Linked DNA regions of Homo sapiens. Changing the gene in region 2 together with the main gene of any one other region gives a genetic interaction. Each region holds a gene or a part of one and is shown on either strand. Other genes may lie near its edges.

The links.
Region 1: changes in CEP152 (region 2) and ACTR10 together harm fitness more than expected from each alone (negative genetic interaction), as found in Homo sapiens cells (one large-scale study listed by BioGRID).

The regions. Positions count from the first base shown.
Region 1 is NC_000014.9:58,220,607-58,224,431, reverse strand, and holds part of ACTR10 (actin-related protein 10), read right to left. Parts: intron 832-3,825; coding exon of another isoform or gene 811-831; coding exon 731-810; intron 650-730; coding exon 576-649; intron 1-575. UniProt on the Homo sapiens protein: Part of the dynactin complex that activates the molecular motor dynein for ultra-processive transport along microtubules.
Region 2 is NC_000015.10:48,751,911-48,755,735, reverse strand, and holds part of CEP152 (centrosomal protein of 152 kDa), read left to right. Parts: intron 1-3,266; coding exon 3,267-3,387; intron 3,388-3,825. UniProt on the Homo sapiens protein: Necessary for centrosome duplication; the function also seems to involve CEP63, CDK5RAP2 and WDR62 through a stepwise assembled complex at the centrosome that recruits CDK2 required for centriole duplication.

The DNA.
Region 1 (3,825 bases), on a different chromosome or scaffold from region 2:
TACTAAAAATACAAAAATTAGCCAGTCATGGTGGTGGCTAATTCTTGTATTTATGAGAACTAATTCTCAATTACCTTGATAAATAGGAGATAATTTTTTTTTTATTTTTAAAAATTTAAAAAGCTGAATAGGCCGGGCACAGTGGCTCATGCCTGTAATCTCAGCACTGCTGGAGGCCAAGGTAGGCGGATCACCTGAGGTCAGGAGTTTGAGACCAACCTGGCTAACATGGCGGAAACCTGTCTCTACTAAAAAATACAAAAATTAGCCAGGCATGGTGGCAGGCACCTGTAATCCCAGCTACTTGGGAGGCTGAGGCAGGAGAATTGCTTGGACCTAGGAGATGAAGGTTACAGTGAGCCGAGATCGTGCCACTGCACTCCAGCCTGGGCAACACAGCAAGACCTTGTCTCAAAAAAAAAAAGCTGAATAAAATTAATCATGAATAATGAGGCTTAACAATAAACACTGAACTGTTAAAATGGCAATAGTGAAATAAAGGCTCATACAAATATTTTTAAAAGCCAAAAGTTTATTTTAGTTTACTACTTTGCCGTAAAAATTTAAGATCTAACCTGATTGATCCAAGGATATGTAAAATCTTCTCTCCATCTAATGGATAGTCAACATTTGGGGGTGGGGAGGGACGCTGAAATATAAATATCATAAACATAAGTCCACACATGTTGTAACCTTTGCAAAAAGATGCCTTTTTTTTTTTTAAACTTACCTCATTATTCCCATCAATATTAAATTTTGCTGCTTGGATTTTTAGTCCTCGCTTCAGATCACTTACAAAGCAAGTACGCGCTTTAAGGAAGAAAAGGAGACCTTATTATGGCTAGTTATTATAATTGAACAGAGTGTACCTACACCCCAGTTAAAACAATTCTATTCAAGTGAACATGCTCATCATCTATTCCTTTGGATTTTATAAACTCTATTCCCATCTTTAGTTAGCTAACAATAATTTGTTCATTAAAAAACCTGTTTTGGCCAGGTGCAGTGGCTCTTGCCTGTAATCCCAGCACTTTGGGAGGCCGAGGCAGGCGGATCACCTGAGGTCAGGAGTTCGAGACCAGCCTGCCCAACAGGGCGACACCCCATCTCTACTAAAAATACAAAAAATTAGCCGGGCGTGGTGGCGGGTGCCTGTAATCCCAGCTGCTCCGGAGGAGGAGGCAGGAGAATTGCTTGAACCCGGGAGGTGGAGGTTGCAGTGAGCCGAGATCGCGCCACTGCACTCCAGCCTGGGCAACAAAAGTGAAACTCCATCTCAAAGAAAAAAAACAAACCAGAACAAAACAAAACAAAAAAACAACCTTTTTCATTGACTAAGGTGTCATAAAACATGTTGTACATTCATCTTGTATAAAACCTCATTTAAAAAAAATCACCTTTGAGGAAACTGTTGTTTGATATCTCTTGTATAAGGAGGACCACAATAAAAATTAATTTTACCATCATAAAAATGTAGCTATTCTAACTGAATAGCATATTTCTTTAAACCAGATTTTCTTTCTCCCTCTCTCTGTCTGATTCTTTTTAAGGAAACTTGTTGTGAAAAGATGTTACCAAAAAGAAATTGGAAAAAAAAAGAAATAAAATTAATAAAAATGTTGGTTGGTCAGAACACAACGCCAATTTTTTTTTTTTTTTTTTTTTTTCTGACAGAGTCTCACTCTATTGCCCAGACTGGAGTGCAGTGGCGTGATCTCGGCACAATGCAACCTCCGCCTCCTGAGTTCATGCGATTCTCATACCTCAGCCACCCAAGTAGCTGGGATTACAGGCACACGCCACCATGCCCAGCTAATTTTTGTATTTTTAGTAGAGACAGGGTTTCGCCATATTGGTCAGGCTGGTCTCGAACTCCTGACCTCAAGTGATCCACCTGCCTTGGCCTCCCAAAGTGCTGGGATTACAGGCATGGGCCACTGCGCCTGGCTGGTACAATGCCAAATTTTGCTCTTAGTTGCAATTTAACATTCCTTAATTTTGGGCTTTTTGTAATGATTGTTCCTCATTAGCACACCCCAACACTACCACTTTCTTTCTACTATATCACTTTACTTTTTGCATTTTGAAAACTTTTTCTTTTAAAAATTCTATTGCAAAGTATTTTTTACAATAAGCTGCTTAAAATTATTTCAAGGTAGTTAAGGAATACCTTTTTTAAAGTAGAGACAAAATTGATGTTAAATGCAAGAAATCTGACAACTTGGTTGTATTACTTGTAAAGCATGTTAGCCATATATTATGAAAAGAATTGTGTATAATATATATAATGCATATTGATATGATATATATTATACACAATTCTTTTCATAATACATTATGTAGTGAATTTCATTCACAAATTCAAAACACATGTGTTGAGAATCCACAATATGCTACTATGCTAGACAGTGAGCTAGGCACTAAAGCTACTTATATGTTTTATATTTTATTCAAGTTCTCGTGACTATCTAAGCAAAGTAAATACCTAGCCTTGAGATCTTTTTTTTGTTTTTGAGATGGAGTCGAGACTGACTTGCCCAGGCTGGAGTGCAGTGGCGCAATCTTAGCCCACTGCAACCTCCGCCTCTGGGGTTCAAGTGATCCTCCTACCTCAGCCTCCCAAGTAGCTGGGACTACAGGTGTGCACCACCATGCCTGGTTAATTTTTTGTAGTTTTATTTTTATTTTTTTGAGACAGAGTTTCACTCTGTCATCCACGCTGGAGTCCAATGGCGTGATCTTGGCTCACTGCAACCTCTGCATCCCAGTTCAAGATCACACAATACAATGAATATGTGTATGCTGCATATTAGTTTTTGTTTTTGTTTTCTTTTGAGACAGTTTTGCTCTGTCACCCAAGCTAGAGTGCAGTGGTCTGAACTTGCCTCACTGCAGCCTCCACCAGGAGATCCCAGGCTCAAGTGATCCTCCCACCTCAGCCCCTCTAAATAGCTGGGACTATAGGTCTGTACCACCACACCTGGTTAATTTTTGTATTTTTTGTAGAGACAGGGTTCATCACGTTGTCCAGGCTGGTCTTGAACTCCTGGGCTCTAGTGATTCACCTGCCTTGGCCTCCCAAAGTGCTGGGATTACAGGGGCCAGCCACTACACCCAGCCTGCATATATTTTTTTTTTTTTTTTTTTTTTTAGACAGAGTCTCGCTCTGTTGCCAGGCTGGAGTGCAGTGGCGCGATCTTGGCTCAATGCAACCTCCGCCTCCCAGGTTCAAGCAATTCTCCTGCCTCAGCCTCCTGAGTAGCTGGGACTACAGGCGAGTGCCACCACGCCCAGCTAATTTTTGTACTTTTTAGTAGAGACGGGGTTTCACCATGTTGGCCAGAATGGTCTCGATCTTTTGACCTCGTGATCCGCCCACCTCGGCCTCCCAAAGTGCTGGGATTACAGTCATGACCCACCGTGCCCAGCCCCTGCATATTTGTTTTTAACAGAAAGGGTTTCTACTGAACATACCTTCAACAACATGCTTTCTTCCTTAACATTATGGACCTTCTTCCAAAACAATACTCTAGCTCTTAACAGCTACATAACATTCCTTATAATGAAGTTAGCAAACTTCATGCAATAACACTTTTTAGATGGGATACAACACTTTGAATTTTCATAAATATGCCAGATTGCTTTCCAAAAAGGTTAGTTTGCAATCCTTACTACTAACAATAAACATCCATTTTCCTACAATCTCACTAATACCAGATGTCTTTCAAATTTTTGCCAATCTGATGTCTCCCTGACTAATGGAAGAGTTACACATCTTTTCACAGGTTGGAGGTCATATGAAAAGAAAACACTCCACATGGTCAA
Region 2 (3,825 bases):
CGTTGCCAAAAAACTTTACTACTTCATAGTGTCACAAATACAAGACAAGATTTTAGCCTCTAAATATCTTTTTCCTAAAGAATATTTAGGACAAATACCTAATGCATGCGGGGCCTAAAACCTAGATGACAGGTTGATAGGTGCAGCAAACCACCATGGCACATGTATACCTATGTAGTAAACCTTCACGTTCAGCACATGTATCCCAGAACTTAAAATAAAATAAAGAATATATGCTGTTCTTTCTAAGGGCCTGAGATTTCAGAAACTGAAAATTTTTTTTTCAAAATTCTGTTTTCTGGGCCTGACCACTTCATGAAATATGCATAATAAGAGTTTCTTAAAAGCTTGTAAAGAGTTTGGAAGCCTATTTATTGCCCTCAATAAATTTATGTCTCATTTAGGCAAAAAAATGCCAACCAAGTACAAAGGTATTGATATAGAAACAAGCAAATAAATACGACTCACTCGCATAAAACTCTGAAGCCCAGTTTCTGGATGTACTATATATGTGCATATAGAATTAATTATATTCTTTTAGTTATATAAGTACTCTCTGAGACCAGCTTTTAATTTGTATGAAAGTTTCAGTAAAACCAAATTCTTGCTACCTTATGATCAAAGCAATTAGGTATGCATGAAAGATCCAGAATGATATTCTGAGCATGGTGATTAGCCAATTTCAACATTTGGGATTAGAGGCAGGAAAAAAAAAAAAGCCAGTATTATAAGGTTTGTCTAATAGAGTTGAGACTTAAGAGTGAAGTTCCATCAAAATATTGTGATTAAGGAGTTTCAAGGCCAGGATTGAGCATTTGGTATTAATACCTACTTGGGAGAGTTATAAACTAGAAAAAATAACCTTGAGTTTCAGTTCCATATTCGATGATAACTAGATTATTATATTGGGCAATCACATAGTTGCTCACTGGAAAAATAAAATACAAATCCCCGGCCTAATTCCTTGGGTTTGGGTAGGATATGCATGGCACAGCTTAGCCTTTCTGGGTCCTGCATTTGAAACAGTATAGAATTTTAGAGCCAGAAGGGACCTGAAAGATCAGCTCACTCCATCCTACTTCACCCCAGTTGATATTTTTATCCTTGACCTCACAAAGATGTTGCTACCGAGTAGTTGCCTTCAATGTAAAATTTACTGGGCAAGATCACTTCCCATGAATACTGCTTCACACTTAATTGAGATTTTTTGGAGAAAATAATTAAAATAACTTGGAGAAAACATATAATTAAAAAATTATAGCAGATTTGGAGATGAGAAATGATGGGAAAATCATGTTTACATGCTTTCGTTTGTAAGCATGTTTCGATTTTTATAACAGTTATAAAATCTGTTATAAAAATCAAGAAACTATGACACCTTTCTCCTACCATTAATATATACATATAAAATCAACCCTGGAGTCTTTTTACAGGGCTTATAATTGTGCAAGCAGTATAAGATCATCTGTGTGACTTAATGAGGCTCATAAGTCTATGGAGACAGAATCACATAATCTGGCTAAGAATTTAGATGTTTACGGCTTTTGTTGGGTGGGTCAGATTCCATTCCTGAGAAAAGGATGGCTTTGAAATGCCTAATCTGGAATTTGTCATAGAAGTAATACTTGACCTTCTGCCATTTTCGAGCTATCTTCACTCAGGACCTTGAGGTAAAGCTATGATTATAGAGCAGTGATTTTAAATTTGTTACATAGGTGCTGTAAATGTGAGGAACTATAATTTATAATTTATTAACTCTCTAGTTTTAAAAATTGTTCATGGAAATTAAAACAAAAGATGGTTTATTAATATATAAAAACAAGTCCTCATTAAAATAACTGAGACAATCAAAAGTTTTTTTAAATGGAGAGGATGCAATGAATGAAAAATATAGCTTTCAAGAAAATGAATGCCATATCAAAATATATTAATACAGTAGTTCATAACAGATAAAACAAATATCAAATGGAACAAAATTTTCAAGCAAACTTAAGGATGTATGTTGTCTCTTTTACCATCAAAGTCAAGTTAAAACTGAGACAAAAAGGTTGTTGCTTTTCTCCCTTTTCTGTTATCTTGACTTTTCTTCCCCAGTTTTGAGTAAAAACTGGAAGCACTGACTGCATTTTGGTTCAGCTTTTCCTACTCCTTTTGACCTCAAACCCATAGCTTCTTGATTGCCTCTTCTCTATAATTGCTAACCTCTGCTTCTGTTGGACATTGTAAGTAGGTTTTCTGACAGTCAATTAAGTGGTTTCTCATAATCAAAATCAAGGCTTCTAGAATCAGGCATATATAGTATGTTTTAAATAATCAGTAAGACTACTTTCTCCATACCACCTATTCTGTTCCTTTCCGATTTAGTAGTCATCTTAAATCTGAAAACATTACCATAAAAATCCATTGATTTGGCTGAGCGTGGTGGCTCACACCTGTAATCCCAGTACTTTGGGAGGCCAAAGCAGGCGGATCACGAGGGTTGAGGCAGGAGAATCGCTTGAACTGGGAGGTGGAGGTTGCAGTGAGCTGAGATCGCGCCAATGCCCTTCAGCCTGGCCGATAGAGGAGGACTCCATCTCAAAACAAAAACCAAAAATGAAAAATCCATTGATTTAGTAGCTGTATTGCTGTGACAAGGACTGGAACATAAAAACGTTCAATAAATATTAGTGAAGAAATGGTCTTGTGCAAGATGTTTAATTTAGCTAAGCCTCAGTTTCTGTCCTTAACTTTGGCATTCAGCTGGCCTTCCTTACAAAATTACTGTGTATGTTAAAGTATTTAGAAGCATATGAAGTACTATATAAATTTAAAATGATTTTTAACTGTTATTTTCAATTCATAGGAGGCAGAGGGTTAGCATTATACTTGCTAATTAACTTGTTCCTTGCTGTAGTAAAAATGTTCTAGATTTTCAAGAACAATTCTGATTTTATATTGTCTTTCATGTGGTTTAATCACGTAAACCATTGAAAAATCTCAAATTCACATATATAATGTGCAAACCATATCTTCTGTCTGTCTCATAGCTGCCCACCAGTCGCCTGTCAGACAGTGTTCTTATTTGGAAAGTTTCATAGGAAGCTAGTTCCTAGTACAGTGACAGTACTTATATAACACCCTAAGAAAAATATTGGCGATAGATAGTTCAGGCAAGATTTTTTTCAGGTAGTGTTTTCTCTTTGTATTTTTAATATTAGCATTTTAAATATAAAATTGTATAAAGATTTTTACTAAGCATTAACTTTGAAGATACTTTATTTCAGAGAAATATGGCCGAGCTCTCTAAGGATTCTGCCAGCCAGGGCACTGGCCAAGGAGACCCTGGACCTGCTGCTGGACACCATGCTCAGCCCTTGGCCTTACAAGCAACAGAAGCAGAAGCTGGTAATTGGATTTTGTTCCCACCAGTCTTTGTAGCATCCATAATCACCCATCTGAAGGGTTGCTTTGAGGATAAAAGGAGATCATAGATGTGAACAAATGGGTAATAATCGTCTGACTTAATGTCCCCTCTTCCTAGATTTCATTTTGTATTTAGATAAGAGGGTTAATTTAGGCCCTCTTCTTCTATTTATGGTTTTCCCTTCATTCACAACTGATTCTTGTTACAAGGAGAATCATGAGAGTTTTAATGGAGAAGTCATGTTTTTATTCCCTGAAATCAAGGGTTTCACATCAGAGAATTGCCAAGTAATACAGACTTTTTCATTCAAATTACTGAAACTAATTTCAATCACTTTTTAATGGAAATCTTTCTGAAATGTATTAGATGTTTTCTAATTGATTTGTGAGTTTTTCTGAGGGCCTGGGCAGTGTTTTTAA